2 separate regions of the Homo sapiens genome follow, and region 2 is linked to region 1. Evidence: fine-mapped expression QTL. A gene starts in region 1. The other region holds a variant in brackets. All regions are shown on one strand. Distances are between the middles of the regions. Region 1 holds the start of SAE1 (SUMO1 activating enzyme subunit 1). Region 2 overlaps SAE1 (SUMO1 activating enzyme subunit 1).

What was found. PIP is the estimated chance that this variant, and not a neighbour inherited with it, causes the effect.
Region 2: its variant is the best candidate, but not a certain one, in a credible set for the expression of SAE1 in whole blood (INTERVAL, PIP 0.50).

What each region holds. Positions count from the first base shown.
Region 1 is chr19:47,126,045-47,134,370 of GRCh38, reverse strand. It overlaps SAE1 (SUMO1 activating enzyme subunit 1), which reads right to left and starts at 3,536. Exons shown (of 9, transcript NM_005500.3): 1 at 3,343-3,536. The coding sequence starts at 3,440. RefSeq lists enhancers at 3,216-3,455, 3,148-3,762.
Region 2 is chr19:47,188,568-47,196,893 of GRCh38, reverse strand. The region is part of intron 6 of SAE1 (SUMO1 activating enzyme subunit 1); the gene reads right to left. Among named protein-coding and RNA genes, the nearest start is that of MIR3190, 34 kb to the left of the region's middle. RefSeq lists an enhancer at 7,038-7,804. The variant G/A (reference allele first, on the strand shown) is at 3,525.

The DNA of each region.
Region 1 (8,326 bases):
TGAGGTAATTCCCATCCCACCACTGCACCCTCTAAAACCTTCTGAAAGCTCCCACCCCCTCAAACTAAATTCTCCTGACGTGTCTGCCTCCCCAACCCCTCCATTAATTCTATACTCTGTACTCACACAATACCCACCATCACCCAAATTTTACCTCTGAACTCAACCCCTCACATATTTCTACTTAGTTGTATAAAAAAACAAATCTGAGGCCGGGCATGGTGGCTCACACCTGTAATCCCAGCACTTTGGGAGGCCGAGGCAGGTGGATCACGAGGTCAGGGGTTCAACACCAGCCTGACCAACACGGTGAAACTCCGTCTCTACTAAAAATACAAAAATTAGCTGGGCATGGTGGCGGGCGCCTGTAATCCCAGCTACTCGGGAGGCTGAGGCAGGAGAATTGCTTGAACCTGGGAGGCAGAGGTTGCAGTGAGCCGAGACCATGCCACTGCACTCCAGCCTGGGCGACAGAGTGAGACTCCGTCTCAAAAAAAAAAAAAACAAACAAAAAAAACAAATCTGAAACCTAAAAGAGAACTGACTCTTCCCCGACCCCACCAAACCTACAGCTCTCCATATCTTTCAAAATGGCAATTCCATCGTTCCAGGTAGGTGCTCAAGCCAAAAACAGTGGTGTCATCCTGGACTTCTGCCCCAAATTCTGTTCCCTCTTCTACCTTCAAAATATATCCAGAATATATTTATTTGACCCCTTCTCTTGAGTTTCAAGCCACCAATATTTTTATCTCAACTGGATTACTGCAACAGTCCAGCCAGAATCTTTACTTCCATTTCTGACCACTTTAACCTATTCTGGAGCGATCATTTTAAAACACAAACCAGGCCAGGCCGCAGTGGCTCACGCCTGTAATCACAGCACTTTGGGAGCCCAAGGCAGGCGGATCACGAGGTCAGGAGATCGAGACTATCCTGTCTAACATGGTGAAACCCCGTCTCTACTAAAAATACTCAAGATTAGCCGGGTGTTGTGGCACATGCCGATAGTCCCAGCTACTCAGGAAGGTGAGGCAGGAGAATCGCTTGAACCTGGGAGGCGGATTCACTGCAATGGCAGTGAGCCGAGATCGTGCCATTGCACTCCAGCCTGGGCCACAGAGCAAGACTCCGTCTCAAAAAACAAACAAAAAACAGATCATGTTACTCCCACACTCAAAACACTCCAACAGGTTTTCCCACACACTTAGAATAAAAGCTACTCCTCAAATCATTTGGTTCCTGCCACCTTATTTCTCTAATTTGACAATCATGCCTGGGCCTCTGGGAATTTGCACTTGCTGTTCTCTTAGCTAGGAAAGTTCTCCCAGATGACCACAGGGCTCTTTCCCATATAAGTCTGAGGCTCAATGTTACCTCTTCAGAGCCCTTCCCTGGCCAACCTATCAAAACAACCCTCTCACTTCACCATCCTTTAATAACTGACACATATACACACGCTTGTGGATTTTTTTTTTTTTTTTGAGACGGGGCCTCACTCTGTCACCCAGGCTGGGGTGTAGTGGTGTGATCATGGCTCACTGCAACCTCCACCTCCCAGGGGCTCAGGTGATGCTCCCACCTCAGTCTCCTGACAAGCTGGGACTATAAACTTATGTCACCATGCCTGGCTAATTTTTGTATTTTTTTGTAGAGACTGGGTTTGGCAACATTACCCAGGCTAGTCTCAAACTCCTGGGCTCAAGAGGTCCCCTCCCCCCAACTCAGCTTCCCAAAGTGCTGGGATTACAGGTGTGAGTCACTGCGTCCAGGCTAAGTAAAAATATTGATCAATGAGGCCAGGCATGGTAGCTCATGCCTGTAATCCCAGCATTTTAGGAGTCTGAGATGGGGGGAGATCTCTTGAGGCCGAGGATCGCTTGAGCTTGGGAGTTCAAGACCAGTCTGGGCAACATGGCAAAACCCCATCCTACAAAAAAAAAAAAAAACAAAAATTAGTCGGATGATGTGGTGGGGCACGCCTGTAGTCCCAGCTACTTGGGAGGCTGAAGAGGGAATATCCCTTGAGCCTTGGAGGTTGAGGCTACAGTGAGCTGTGATCCCACCACTGCACTCCACTGGGCCACAGAGAAAGAAAAAAAAAAAAAACAAGCTGGGCACAGTGGCTCACGTCTGTAATCCAACCACTTTGGGAGGCTGTGGCGGGCAGATCACTTGAGGTCCGGAGTTTGAGACCAGCCTGGCCAACATGGTGAAAACCCATGTCTACTAAAAATACAAAAATTAGCCAGGCATGGTGGCGCGAGCCTGTAATCCCAGCTACTCAGAAGACTGAGGTGAGAGGAAGTCTTGAACCCGGGAGGCCAGAGGCTGCAGTGAACCGAGGTCACCCAACTGCACAAAACAAAAGACGTCCTGGCGCGGTGGCTCACTCCTGTAATCCCAGCACTTCAGGAGGCCGAGGCGGGTGGATCACTTGAGGTAAGGAGATCGAGACCAGTCTCGTCAATATGGCGAAACCCCGTGTCTACTAAAAATACAAAAATTAGCCGGGCGTGCTGGCGGGCCCCTATAATCCCAGCTACTCGGGAGGCTGAGTTAGGAGAATCGCTTGAATCCGGGAGGCAGAGGTTGCAGTGAGCCGAGATCGCGCCACTGCCCTCCAGCCTGGGCGACAGAGAGAGACTATCTCAAAAAAAAAAAAAAAAAAAAAAAGAATTCCCTAAGCTACTCCACAATGCCCAAACTACGTCTCCTGTCCTATCAAGACACAGCCCCATACCAAACACAAGCAACCTTTTCGGGAGCCTACGGCCGTCCCCCTCCAGCCTCTCCGAGCCTCTCAAGATTCCCATTTGAGATAACTTGCTCCAAAACTCCTCAAAACCCGCATTCTCTCAGACTGGCCCGCCCGTGAGCTCCCACAAGAGTGTAAGCTCCCGTCTGTCCGGTTGGCCAGTCCAGTCTCCCCTGTGTGCAGCACGGAACCAGGTCCCATACCCTCGAATGAATGAACTGCGTCCCTCACCTCACCCTTTCCACGTATCCCCAGCCCCTCTTATCCCCTAACCGCGATCAAACCCCACAATCACCGCTTTCGGGCCTCGGATTTCCTGAGTTTGAATTCTCCCGCTCTCTCAGGACTCCCCAACGCCCCCTTCAGAGCTCCCATCCTTCGGAACGGCCCTCCCAACCACTTCCCAGACCTTCCAGAAACATCCCCAATCAACTCCTCCAGTCCCCCCAAGAGAGAGACGATCCCAGAGCACAGAATTCCCGCCTCCTCCCTTCAAATCACACCTTCCCGCTCCTTCCGGGCCGCAAACGCCTCAGAATAGACGCCCCCTCCAGACCCTAGCGGCCTCAAGCCGCGCCGGCCCTGACCGTTTCTGGGCCTCCAGTCCCCACAGGCGGATCTGCCGGTCATACTGTGCCGCCTCCTCCTCGCTAATGCCGCCGCCAGCCTCCTCCTTCTCCACCATGGCGCCGGCTCTTCCTGCCTCAGCTCCGGTCCCGCTCAAGCCAACCGCCCGCCGGACCCGCGCGCCACCTACCGCCGCCGGCAGCACGCCCGGAGTGCTTCTGCGCATGCGCAGACCCTCCCACGCCTGCGCAGTACCTCGTCCGCGGAGCCTGGGACCAAAAGTACCTCACGAGACTCAAAGGCGATCCGGCGACTGCATGTCACGTGACGGAGGGTCCAACCAATCCTAGCCCCAAAAATGGCGCGGCTTAAGGCCCCGAGGGCGTTGCCCACGTGGTCACTTATGTGGCACTTAAATTCTGCAAATATTTAAGGAGTGCATACTGAGATCCCAGCAATAGGGATGTTGTAAAATAACGGTATTGAGTGAAATCGACAAAGCCCTGTCCTCATGGAGTTTACGATCCAGTGAGAAAAGCCCGAAGAGAAATAAATATAAACCCAGCGATGATAAATGCTTTGGAGAAAAATAAAGCAGGACATGGGGCTACAGAGTAACAGGGGTGGTCAGGGAAGGCTTATCAGAGGTGACATTGAACTGTCAATTTTTTTTTTTTTTTTTCATAGAGATGGGGTCCCTCTGTTGCCTAGGCTGGTCTCCAACTCCTGGCCTCAAGCCATCCTCCCGCCTCTGCCTCCCAAAGTGCTGGGATTACAACCATGAGCCACTGTGCCCAGCCTTTCATGTCCCTACTATGTGTTGCACTTTGTGCCCAGCCCTGGACATACAATAATAATAAAAATGAACACATCTCTGCCTTAGAGGCAGTCACGGCCCAGTGGGAGAGAGGAGCGTTAAGAAAACAGGAATAGGCCAGGCACGGTGACTCGCACCTGTAATCTCAGCACTTCGGAAGGCCAAGGCAGGCAGATTACTTTAAATCAGGAGTTGGAGACCAGCCTGGCTAATGTGGTGAAATCCCGTCTTTAGTAAAAATAAAAAAATTAGCAGGGCATGGTGGCTCACACTTGTAGTCCCAGCTACTTGGAAGGCTGAGGTAGGATAATTGCTTGAATCCGGGAGGCGGAGGTTGTAGTAAGCCAAGATCATGCCTCTGCACTCCAACCTGGGTAACAGAGCAAGACTCTGTAAAAAAAAAAAAAAAAGAAAGAAAGAAAGAAAGGAAGGAAGGAGGGAGGGAAAGAGAGAGGGAAAGGAAGGAAGGAAGGGAAAAAAAAAAAAAACCAGGGATGGCCCCAGGTGGTCAATATAGGGAAACGCTATCTCTATTAAAAATACAAAAATTAGCTTGGTGTGGTGGTACTGAGTCTATAGTCCCAGCTACGTGGGAGGCTGAGGTGGAAGGATTTCTGATGTTAGAATCATAGGCTTTTTGGCAGGGCACAGTGGCTCATGCCTGTAATCCCAGCACTTTGGGACGCCAGGGAGGGCAGATCACGAAGTCAGGAGTTCGAGACCAGCCCGGCCAAGATGGTGAAACCCCCATCTCTACTAATACTAAAAAATTAGCCGGGCGTGGTGGCACACGCCTGTAGTCTCAGCCAATTGGGAGGCTGAGGCCGGAGAATCGCTTGAACCTGGGAGGCAGAGGTTGCAGTGAGCCAAGATCCTGCCACTGCACTCCAGCATGGATGACAGAGACTCCCGTCTAAAAAAAAAAAAAAAAAAGCCACCATGCCCACCTAACTTTTGTATTTTTAGTAGAGACAGGGATTGCACCATGTTGGCCAGGCTGGTCTCGAACTCCTGAACTTGTGATCCACCCGCCTCGGCCTCCCAAAGTGCACGGATTACAGGTGTGAGCCACCATGCCTGGCGGAATCATAGATTTTTATTTAAGAATTGCTTAGGCCGGAGGTGGTGGCTCACGCCTGTAATCCCAGCATTTTGGGAGGCAGAGGTGGGCGGATCACGAGGTCAGGAGTTCGAGATCAGCCTGGCTAACATGGTGAAACCTTGTCTCTACTAAAACTACAAAAAATTAGCCGGGCGTGGTGGCAGGCGCATGTAGTCCCAGCTACTGAGGAGGCTGAGGCAAGAGAATAGCATGAACCTGGGAGATGGAGCTTGCAGTGAGCCGAGTTCGCGCCACTGCACTCCAGCCTGGGCAACAGAGCAAGACTCCGTCTCAGAAAAAAATAAATAAATAAATAAATAAATAAATAATAAGAATTGCTTAGCGCCCGGCATGGTGGCTCATGCCTGTAATCCATGCGCTTTAGGAGACTGAGATAGGAAAATCACTTGAAGTCAGGAGTTCATGACCAGCCTGGGCAACATGACAAGACCCCTGTCTCTACAAAAAAAAAAATTTTTTAATTAGCTGGGTGTGGTGGTGCGTGCCTGTAATCCCAGCTACTTGGGAGGCTAAGGTGGAAGGATCCTTTGAGCCCAGGCGTTAGAGGCTGCAATGAGCTATGATGGCACCACTGCACTCCAGCCTGGACAACAGACCTTGTCTCAAAAAAAAAAAAAAAAAAAAAAAAGCTTAAGATATTTTTCAGATCCTGAATTCCAGCAAAACAGCTGATACCAACCAGTGTGAAGACCCCGCAGAGGAACCAAATCGACAGGAGAATAGAGTTTCTTCAACTCCCTGTTTCATTACTTCACCCTGCACACTTCAACCAACCAATGACCTCCACACTTCAACCCACTCCAAAACCCTTAAAAAGCCCCGAACTCCCTGGGGAAGTGGATTCGTGGTTCCTTCCATCTCCTCTCTTGGTTTTCAGTGGCCCCTATGATTAAACCTCTTTCTCTGCTGCAACCTGGGGTCTCCTACTATTGACTTGCTGCAAGCATTGGGGGGAAGGACCTATTATGATGGAAAAGCTTTCAATAGGCCAGGCACTGTGGCTCATGTCTGTAATCCCAACACTTTGAGAGGATCACTTGAGGCCAGGAGTTTGAGGCTGTCAAACACAGCCAGACCCCGTCTCTACAAAAAAATATAAAAATTAGGCCGGGCACAGTGACTCATACCTGTAATCCCAGCACTTTGGGAGGCATGGACGGGAGGATCACCTGAGGTCAGGAGTTAGAGACCAGCCTGGCCAACATGGTGAAACCCCATCTCTACTCAAAATACAAAAATTAGCCGAGTGTGGTGGTGTGCGCCTGTGATCCCAGCTACCCAGGAGGCTGAAGGCGGAGAATCACTTGAACCCGGGAGGTGGAGTTTGTAGTGAGTGGAGATCTTGCCATTGCACTCTAGCCTGGGCAACAGAGCGAGACTCTGTCACAAAAATAAATAAATAAATAAAATAAAGATTAAAAATTAAAGTTCTGATTCCAAAGTTTTTTGCACTTTGGTGTGCCACTTCCTAATCTCCGGGGAAAATGCCAGTTACAAGATCAAATAACCACTTTGTGCAGGAAACGACATTTAGAATTCAGAGAATGACCCAGCTGCAAAGGGCTGTGTCAAGTATCTTTTAGATAAGCCTCTGAAAATAAAGTGCTGTTTAGTTGCCTTATATTATTAAAGGAAAATGTACATGGATTATAGAAAGAAAAATAGAGGCCAGGCACGGTGGCTCATGCCTGTAATACCAGCACTTTGGGAGGCCGAGGCGGGCGGATCACCTGAGGTCGGGAGTTCGAGACCATCCTGACCAAAGTGGAGAAACCCCATCTCTACTAAAAATACAAAATTTTAGGCATGGTGCCGCATGCCTGTAATCCCAGCTACTTGGGAGGCTGAGGCAGGAGAATCGCTTGAACCTGAGAGGTGGAGGTTGCAGTGATCCGAGATTGTGCCATTGCACTCCAGCCTGGGCAACAAGAGCAAAACTCTGTCTCAAAAGAAAGAAAGAAAGTAATCCTGGGCTGGGCGCGGTGGCTCACGCCTGTAATCCCAGGACTTTGGGAGGTCAAGGTGGGTGGATCACAAGGTCAGGAGTTCGAGACCAGCCTGGCCAATATGGTGAAACCCGGTCTCTACTAAAAATACAAAAAAATTAGCCAGGCGTGGTGGCACATGCCTGTAATCCCAGCTACTCGGGAGGCTGAGGCAGGAGAATTGCTTGAATCCGGGAGGCAGAGGTTGCAGTGAGCTGAGATCGCGCCACTGCACCCCGGTCTGGGTGACAGAGCGAGACTCTGTCTCAAAAAAAAAAACAAAAACAAAACAAAAAAGAAAGTAATCCTGAAGGTCCATGGCATATAGTAATTCGTAATTGGTTAGGGAGTGACCCAGTGACCCAGGTTCTTACCTGTGACTATGCCATAACTCTTGTAAAATGATCACTTTGTTGGCCAGGCGCGGTGGCTCACGCGTGTAATCCCAGCACTTTGGGAGGCAGAGGCGGGCGGATCATGAGGTCAGGAGATCGAGACCATCCTGGCTAACACGGTGAAACCCCGTGTCTACTAAAAATACAAAAAATTAGCTGGGCATGGTGGCGGGTGCCTGTAGTCCCAGCTACTCGGGAGGCTGAGGCAGGAAAATGGTATGAACCCAGGAGGCAGAGCTTGCACTGAGCCAAGATAGCGCCACTGCACTCCGGCCTGGGCAAAAGAGCGAGACTCCGTCTCAACAAAAAAAAAAGAAAAGAAAAAGAGCCCTGAAAATAAAGCTAATTGCTGCATAAATTATTTTCTCCTGTACTTGCAGACTCATTGAAGGTCTAAAAGTGTCTCCCTTTCCTCTCTTCACTTCTACTTTTTATAGTTTCTGGGAAAAATTAAATGTGATGGTATAGTCTCATGTTTGGAAATATGCATCCTTTTAAAAAAACATTTTTATTGGCTGGGCCCGGGGGCTCACACCTATAATCCCAGCACTTTGGGAGGCCGAGGCAGGTGGATCACAAGGTCAGGAGATTGAGACCATGCTGGTCAACATGGTGAAACCCTGTCTCTACTAAAAATACAAAAAAATTAGCTGGGTGTGGTGGCGCATACCTGTAGTCCCAGCT
Region 2 (8,326 bases), 63 kb before region 1:
TTTATTTATTCAACAAACATAGTCAGAGAGGCAATCCAATAATTATAAAAGCAATTTACCTTACTGTGAAAAGTGCTGTGACAGCATAATAGGGCGTCTGACACCCTCTGTAGGGTGGTATCAGGAAGGCTTCCCCGAGGAAACAATTCAATGAAGTATATATGAGTTTGAAGGGGGCAGAAAGCAGTGGAAGCTTTCAGTAGAGGAAAAAGGCTCTATTAAGACCTGGAAGAGCCGGGTGCGGTGGCTCACAGCTGTAACCCCAGCACTTTGGGAGGCCGAGGCAGGTGGATCACAAGGTCAGGAGTTCGAGACCAGCCTGGCCAACATAGTGAAACCCTGTCTCTACTAAAAATACAAAAATTAGCCAGGTGTGGTGACACGTGCCTGTAGTCCCAGCTACTTGGGAGACTGAAGCAGGAGAATCACTTGAATCCAGCAGGCGGAAGTTGCAGTGAACCAAGATTGTGCCACTGCAATCTAGCCTGGGTGACAGAGTGAGACTCCGTCTCAAAAAAGTAAAATTAAAAAAAAAAAAAAAAAAAAAAAAAAAAAAAAAAGCCAGGCGCGGTGGCTCACGCCTGTAATCCCAGCACTTTGGGAGGCCGAGGTGGGAGGATCACGAGGTCAGGAGTTTGAGACCAGCCTGACCAACATGGTGAAACCCCGTCTCTACTAAAAATATAAAAAAAATTAGCCAGGCACCTATAATCCCAGCTACTCGGAAGGCTGAGGCAGGAGAATCGCTTGAACCCAGGAGGCAGAGGTTGCAGTGAGCCAAGATCGTGCCACTGCACTCCAGCCTGGGCAACAGAGCGAGACTCCGTCTGGGAAAAAAAAAAAAAAAAAGACCCGGAAGAGGCAGAGTGTGATGGCACACATCTGCAATCCCAACACTTTGGGGGGCCAAGGCGTGAGGATCGCTTGAGCCCAGGAGTTTGAGATAATCCTGGGCAACATAGTGAGACCTCACTGCTACCAAAAAAAAAAAAAAAATTTAGCCAAGTATGGTGGTGCCTGTAGTCCCAGCTACTAAGGAGGCCAAGGCAGAAGATCACTTGAGCCCAGAAGGTCAAGGCTACATGAGCAGAGATCTCATCACTGCACTCCAGCCTGGGTGACAGAGTGAGACCCTGTCAAAAAAAAAAAAAAAAAAAGAAGAAAAAAAGGAAAGGAAAAGGAACAAAGGGAAGGAAGAAGCGAAGGGGAAGGGGAAGGGAAAGGGAAAGGGGAAGGGACCTAGAAGAGAGATGATAAGGAGTGGGAGGTACACATTCTAGGCAGGACCAGTTTAAAGCCTGCTTTAGCCAGAAGGGCCAGCCATATACTTAGACCCATCAAACAGGAAGGTCATTACAAACAAAACTTCCTTTACTATGAAAACTATCTCAATCCCCATAAATGGATGTTTAATTTTGGTTGTGAACCAGAGGAAAGGTTCAGATGATGGCTGTGAGTCAGAACTACTGTGTAAGAAGACCCCAACAAGGCTATAACTTTTATCCCAAATAAAGACAAATAGGAGCAAAAGACTAATTAGGCTGGGTGCAGTGGCTCACGCCTGTAATCCAAGCATTTTGGGAGGCCAAGGCGGGTGGATCATCTGAGGTCAGGAGTTCGAGACCAACCTGGCCAACATGGTGAAACCCGGTCTCTACTAAAAATACAAAAATTAGCCAGGCGTGGTGGCAGGCACCTGTAGTCCCACTTAGTCAGGAGGCTGAGGCAGGAGAATCGCTTGAACCCGGGAGGCAGAGGTTGCAGTGAGCCGAGATCGTGCCACTGAACTCCAGCCTGGGCAACAGAGTGAGACTTCATCTCAGAAAAAAAAAAAAAAAGACTGGCCAGGTGTGGTGGCTCACGTCTGTAACGTCTGTAATCCCAGCACTTTGGGAGGCCGAGGCAGGCAGATCACGAGGTCAGAAGTTAGAGACCAGCCTGGCCAACATGGTGAAACCCCGTCTCTACTAAAAAAATACATAAATTAGCCAGGCGTGGTGGCGCACGCCTGTAGTCCCAGGTACTTGGGAGGCTGAAGCAGAAGAATCACTTGAACCTGGGAGGTTGCAGTGAGCTGAGATCGCGCCACTGCACTTTGCCTGTGCGATAGAGCGTAACTCCATCTCAAAAAAAAAAAAAAAAAAAAGACTGATTAACATACCAACACCTTCTAACTGCCCACTACACCTTGTCCACAGGTAACCTGCCTGCGGGCGGGCAGGCATTCTTGTTCCCTACATACTGCCCAAGGAAAGGGCACAGCCAGTCTCGAGCCTTGTCTCTAAGGACAATACTCTTTCTCCCACATCACACAGGCTATTTCAGAACAGACACAGAGACATGGATCAGCTTCTAGGCCCAAGCCCTGAGTGCTTTACACCTGGAGAGGGGGCTTTACAGTTTGTCAGTTCTTTCATTGATATCTCTTCCGTATATGTTGATTGAAAAAGTAGACTTATTCAGCAAATTATACTCTCTACCAGGACAAGGGTTCCTACATAAAAATTAAGGTAAATTCAAGTTGCTGTGAGGCTCTTTAAAAAATACAAGTATTTGGTACCCACCCCAGACTGAAGCATCAGAGTCACACTTTTTAAAGACCAAATAGTTTTGGTAATGAGCAGCCTGTGTTGAGGGCCATTCTCTAAGTAGAATTCATTCACTCCACCAGCCTGGCACTTACTTTGTGCCAGACAGACCTGGGTGCTAAAGGTCCAATGGCGAGTGAGTGAATCTTGGTCTCTGCATCTGTGAAGGCAATGGGTGGGAGAACAACTGAGGAGGACACAGTTTTAGAAGCTACAACAGGTGGCTCCACTGAAGCCTGGGAGACGTTCAGAAATGGGTTATAAAGTGTTCCAAGAAGATCTCAAACCACAGATGCCCAGGTAAAAAAAAAAGACACACCCTGCTTCTGGGCTATGCTTTTCTCAGTGCCAATGTCAGACAAAGGCCCCTGGCCTGTATTTCTCTGGTAACTTCCACCTGTCCAGTATAGACGGGGCTCTGCATATCAGAGAAGAGGTAATTTCTTTTTCTTTTTCTTTTCTTTCTTTTTTTTTTTTTTTGAGACAATCTTGCTCTGTTGCCCAGGCTGGAGTGCAATGGCGTGATCTCGGCTCAATGCAACCTCCACCTCCCGGGTTCAAGCCATTCTCCTGCCTCAACCTGCCAAGTAACTGGGGATTACAGGTGCCTGCAGCCACACCCAGCTAATTTTTTGTATTTTTAGTAGAGATGGGGTTTCACTAAAAATAGAAAAATTCCTGGTCTCAAGTTCCTGACCTCAGGTGATCCTCCCACCTTGGCCCCCCAAAGTGCTGGAATTACAGGCGTGAGCCACAGCACCCAGCTGGTAATTTCTTTAAAAAAAAAAAGGAAAGAAAAGAAAAAAGCTCCAGAACACCCATTGACTCTTCTGAATACTGTTTGCTTTCTGAGAATGTTACTCTCTTCTCTTTTTCAAGAACACAGCTTCTGCAACCCTCAATGCTACCTCAACACTTGGCAGTCAACTCAAAGCT[G/A]TAACAATTGGCCAGGTGTGGTGGCTCATGCCTGTAATCCCAGCACTTTCAGAGGCTGAGGCAGGTGGATCACCTGAGGTCAGGAGTTCAAGACCAGCCTGGCCAACACAGCGAAACCCCATCTCTACTAAAAATACCAAAAAAATTAGCCGTGCATGGTGGTGGGTGCCTGTAATCTCAGCTACTCGGGAGGCTGAGGCAGGAGAATCTCTTGAACCCGGGAGGTGGAGGTTGCAGTGAGCCGAGATTGTGCCACTGCACTCCAGCCTGGGCGACAGAGCAAGACTCTGTCTCCAAAAAAAAAAAAAAAAAGGCTGTGACCATCTAGACGATCTGGATGCCAGAGAGCACTGATCTGCTACCACCCAATACTTCTACTTTTGTAGATGTCCTGCTGGTATTCCGATTGTAGTAAATAAATGCAACTGAGTAACCATTTTGGGGCAGGGTAGAGAAATGACTGCAGAAGTGGCAAGTACTGCCTGTTTGGACCAAGCCTCTTTTCAAAAAATGTCCCATAAAATAAAGGAGGCCAGGTGCAGTGGCTCACACCTGTAACCCCAGCACTTTGGGAGGCTAAGGTGGGCAGATCACTTGAGGTCAGGAGTTTGAGACCAGCCTGGCCAACATGGTGAAACCCCATCTCTACTAAAAATAGGAAAATTAGCCGAAAGTGTGGTGGGTGCCTATAATCAAGTACTTGGGAGGCTGAGGCAGTAGAATTGCTTGAACCCAGGATTCAGAGGTTGCGGTGAGCCGAAATCACACCGCTGCACTCCAGTCTGGGCTACAGAGAGAGGCTGTCTCAAAAAATAAATTAAGTAGCCGGGCATGGTGGCTGATGCCTGTAATCCCAGCACTTTGGGAGGCCAAGGCGGGTGGATCACGAGGTCAGGGGTTCAAGACCAGCCTGGCCAAGATGATAAAACCCCATCTCTATTAAAAATACAAAAATTAGCTGGGCATGGTGGCGGACGCTTTTAATCCCAGCTACTCGGGAGCCTGAGGCAGGAGTCGCTCAAACCCAGGAGGCAGAGGTTGCAGTGAGCCGGTATCGTGCCACTGCAATCTAGCCTGGGTGACAGAGCGAGACTCTGTCTCAAAACAACAACGACGACAACAACAACAACAACAAACCAGTAGGAAGGGTGATAATAATTACCCGCTCACCAGGTTATCGTGAAGATCACATGAGTGCTAAGCCATGTGAAATGTTTAGTATAGTGCCTGACACATAGTAGGCACTATAACGCTTTGGGCTTTGGTGCTCCCAAAGCTATATTTTCTTTCTCTCTCTTTTTTCTTTTTTTTTTTTTGAGACAGAGTCTCGCTCTGTTGCCCAGGCTGGAGTGCGGTGGCGCGATCTCGGCTCACTGCAAGCTCCGCCTCCCGGGTTCACGCCATTCTCCTGCCTCAGCCTCCCGAGTAGCTGGGACTACAGGCGGCCATCACCACGCCCGGCTAATTTTTGTATTTTTAGTATAGACGGGGTTTCACCGTGTTAGCCAGGATGGTCTCGATCTCCTGACCTTGTGATCGGCCCGCCTTGGCCTCCCAAAGTGCTGGGATTACAGGTGTGAGCCACCGCGCCCGGCCTATTCCCACAGCTATGTTTTCAAACCAAAAGATGAAAAGCTTTGTGGTAACAGCTGAAAAAAAAAATCACCTCCTCTTGTTGGTCCCTTGTGACAGTTGGTGCTTGTGTCCCAGTAACAAAGAAATAAGATCGCACAAGAGTCATCTAGCACAGGGTTCCTGCCACTGTCCATCACCTTGCACCTGGAAAGCAGGCAGCCTCAGTTTCCACGTGACTGCTGCAAGGCCTCAGACTGTGCCCTATAAGCAGCCCATGCACAGCTTTGCCTCCATCTGCTCAGGCAGTGTTGATACCCTTTCTGGGTCTTGTTGCCCTGTTCTCTCAGGAGTGACTGACAGGACTAGCGTTTAACATTTGATGCAATATCCTCTGCTTTGGCTATACTAACAGATGGCTGGATTCCTTTATTTTTATTCATTTATTTACTTGTTTTTGTTTTTCTTCTTTTTTTTTGAGATGGAGTCTCACTCTGTCACCCAGGCTGGAGACGCCCACAACCACGCCCAAATAACTTTTGTATTTTTACTAGTGACGGGGCTTCACTATGTTGGCCAGGCTGGTCTCGAACTTCTGACCTTAAGTGATCCTCCTGCCTCAGCCTCCCAAAGTGCTGGGATTATAGGCATGACCCACTACGCCCAACCTACCCATCCTACTTTACAGATCAGGAAACTGAAGTTCAGAAACATTAAATGACTTGGTCACTGTAACTCCCAAGTACTGGAGCAGAAATGTAAACTCAAATCTAGCTTCAGAATTTGTGCTTCTTAACCCTAATGGAATCCAAAAGAAACAGCAGGTCCATACAGGGACACAGCACCTAGGATTCCAAGTGGTCTGGTTCTTTGCCACCCACCTCAGGGGATCCCCCATTTGATCAAGTTTTTGTCAAATGCATTTTTCCAGATGGGCCTCGCCTCTGTTAATTTCAAGCTGTAAGTTCAGTGGGTGAGAAGTGGAGACCGTGGTCATATAAAACTTTGCCCATCAATCTTGAGAGAGTAAACCAGCTTCCTCTTAGGAAGAAATAGGACAGCATTAAGAGCAGGAGCAAAGGCGGCAGCAGCTGACCCCGCTGTTTCTCTGGGACCCTTGCCTGTTCCTGGTGCAGTTTGGCTGGACGAGGGCCGGCAGGCTGGCACCATCCACATACCTCGCTGACCACATCTGAAGTCCTTGCAGGGCCTCTGGGAAGGGGGCCAATCAGTCCAGCCACTTACTTGCAGCAAAACAAACAGAAGCTGTCTTTTTTCACTCTTTCTCGAAGGTCAGACTCCAGTTAGCAGCAGTGGAGGGGGGCAGGAAGAAAGCCATGTTCTTGACAGGCAGCAGCCTCAGAACTGACCCTAGCCCCTGACAAGTTCTCGCTTATTAAATTCTCCTTTGTTCTGCTTTCCGCCCCGCCCCAAGAGCCAAACACGCACACATACCACTGTTGACTGCATTTCTGAAGAGCACCTCCCACCAGTTTACACATTATAAAACTGTTCCGTTAAGATCAAACACTGTCAGGGATAGAGAGGTGCTCTACCAAAAGATGACTCATCAAATCGTATCAAAACACTGCACAAAATTAGAGTTCCAAACTTGATTAACTTCATCTGCACCTTTTAATTAACTCAGGATGCTGAAGTCTGGGGGGATGACATTCATTGCTGGAGATGATGGACTAGTGTCTCGGCTTAGGTTCAGGACTTGCCCATGTAATGGAAAAGGCAAACTTTGGAAAAGAGAAACCAAGCACGGTTTCACGTTATTTATAGAAAAAACTGTGGATATGTGAATATACAACCACCTTTACAAAATAATGTAAGCACTCAAATTCAAATTTAATCTCAGTTCATAACATCAGGTTAGCGCTATAACGGGAATCTGGACAGCAACATTATTAATCACTGTTTGTTACATAAACTTCTATTACATTTAACTATTATGCCTAAATCTAATCACCAAGGCCACCGAATAAACCAGTACTTTAGTAGGAAGAAAATAAAGTCACTGTCACAAATTAGCCCCTAATTGCTGGCCCCCAAAAACAGTTCAATTGTGGGGGGCAGGGGAGTTGAATCTATATCAAAACTTCATTTACCTGAGACAGGCCCAAAGCTTTTCTGTGCCAGACACCTCGGCCCCAATTCCCTGGCTCCCTGCAGCTGAACGTAGACTCCTCCCCAGGGTTGGCTCACTTTTGTTTTTTTTGTTTGTTCGTTTTAAGACAGAGTCTCGCTCTGTCACCCAGGCTGGAGTGCAGTGGCGCGATCTTTGCTCACTGCAACCTCCGCCTCCCAGGTGCAAGCGATTCTACTGCCTCAGCCTCCTGAGTAGCTGGGATTACAGGCACGCACCACTACGCCCGGCTCATTTATATACATATTTTTTAGTAGAGATGGGGTTTCACCATGTTGGTCAGGCTGGTCTCAAATTCCTGACCTCGTGATCCGCCTGCCTCAGCCTCCCAAAGCGCTGGGGTTACAGGCGTGAGCCACTGCGCCCAGCCCCCAGGTTGGCTCACTTTATGGAGAGTCGCTATCTCTGGAAACAGCCTGGTAATCTGCTCCACTCCCAGGTGACATAAATTTCCAGAAAAATTGCAAAGTATGGTAGTACTACCTCTTATCCAACAGCCTGTTTCCTAAGGCAAAGCCCTGGGCCTGACATTCAGTCAATTGTTCATTCAATAAATATACACTGAGCAATGACTGTGCCAGGTGCTGGGCTGGGCAGGCGAGGGCAGAATGGATGGTCTACCCTCTCACAGCATTTCAGAGGGCAATCAACAAAAACTACACAGGAGATAACAATGTCCTAACTCGAAAAGGGGCTTTGAGAGAGCCTCAGGGGGGTGCAATGAGGTGCCTTGTCAAGTGACCAGGCCCTCCACAGTTGGCAGAACCACCTCAGTCCTCATAGTCTCTGAATATTTGCCTGTCCCGTCCTCTGTACCTTCTCTCTGCAAAGCCTGTCCCTGGCCTGGACAGCTTTCCAACTGGAGGGCAGCAGCGAAGAGCACAGCTCTAGACTCCCTATTCTTCCACTTACTGTGACCTTGGGCAAGTGACAAGGACCCTGAGCCTCCTCTGCAAAATGGGAATCCCAAGGGCACTTGTGGGGTTTAAAGATTAAATGAACCAATACATGTAAAGCACCCAAGAGTGCCTGGGGCAGTATCTTCCAGGTCTGTCACTGCTCTTAAGCAAAGTCCAGA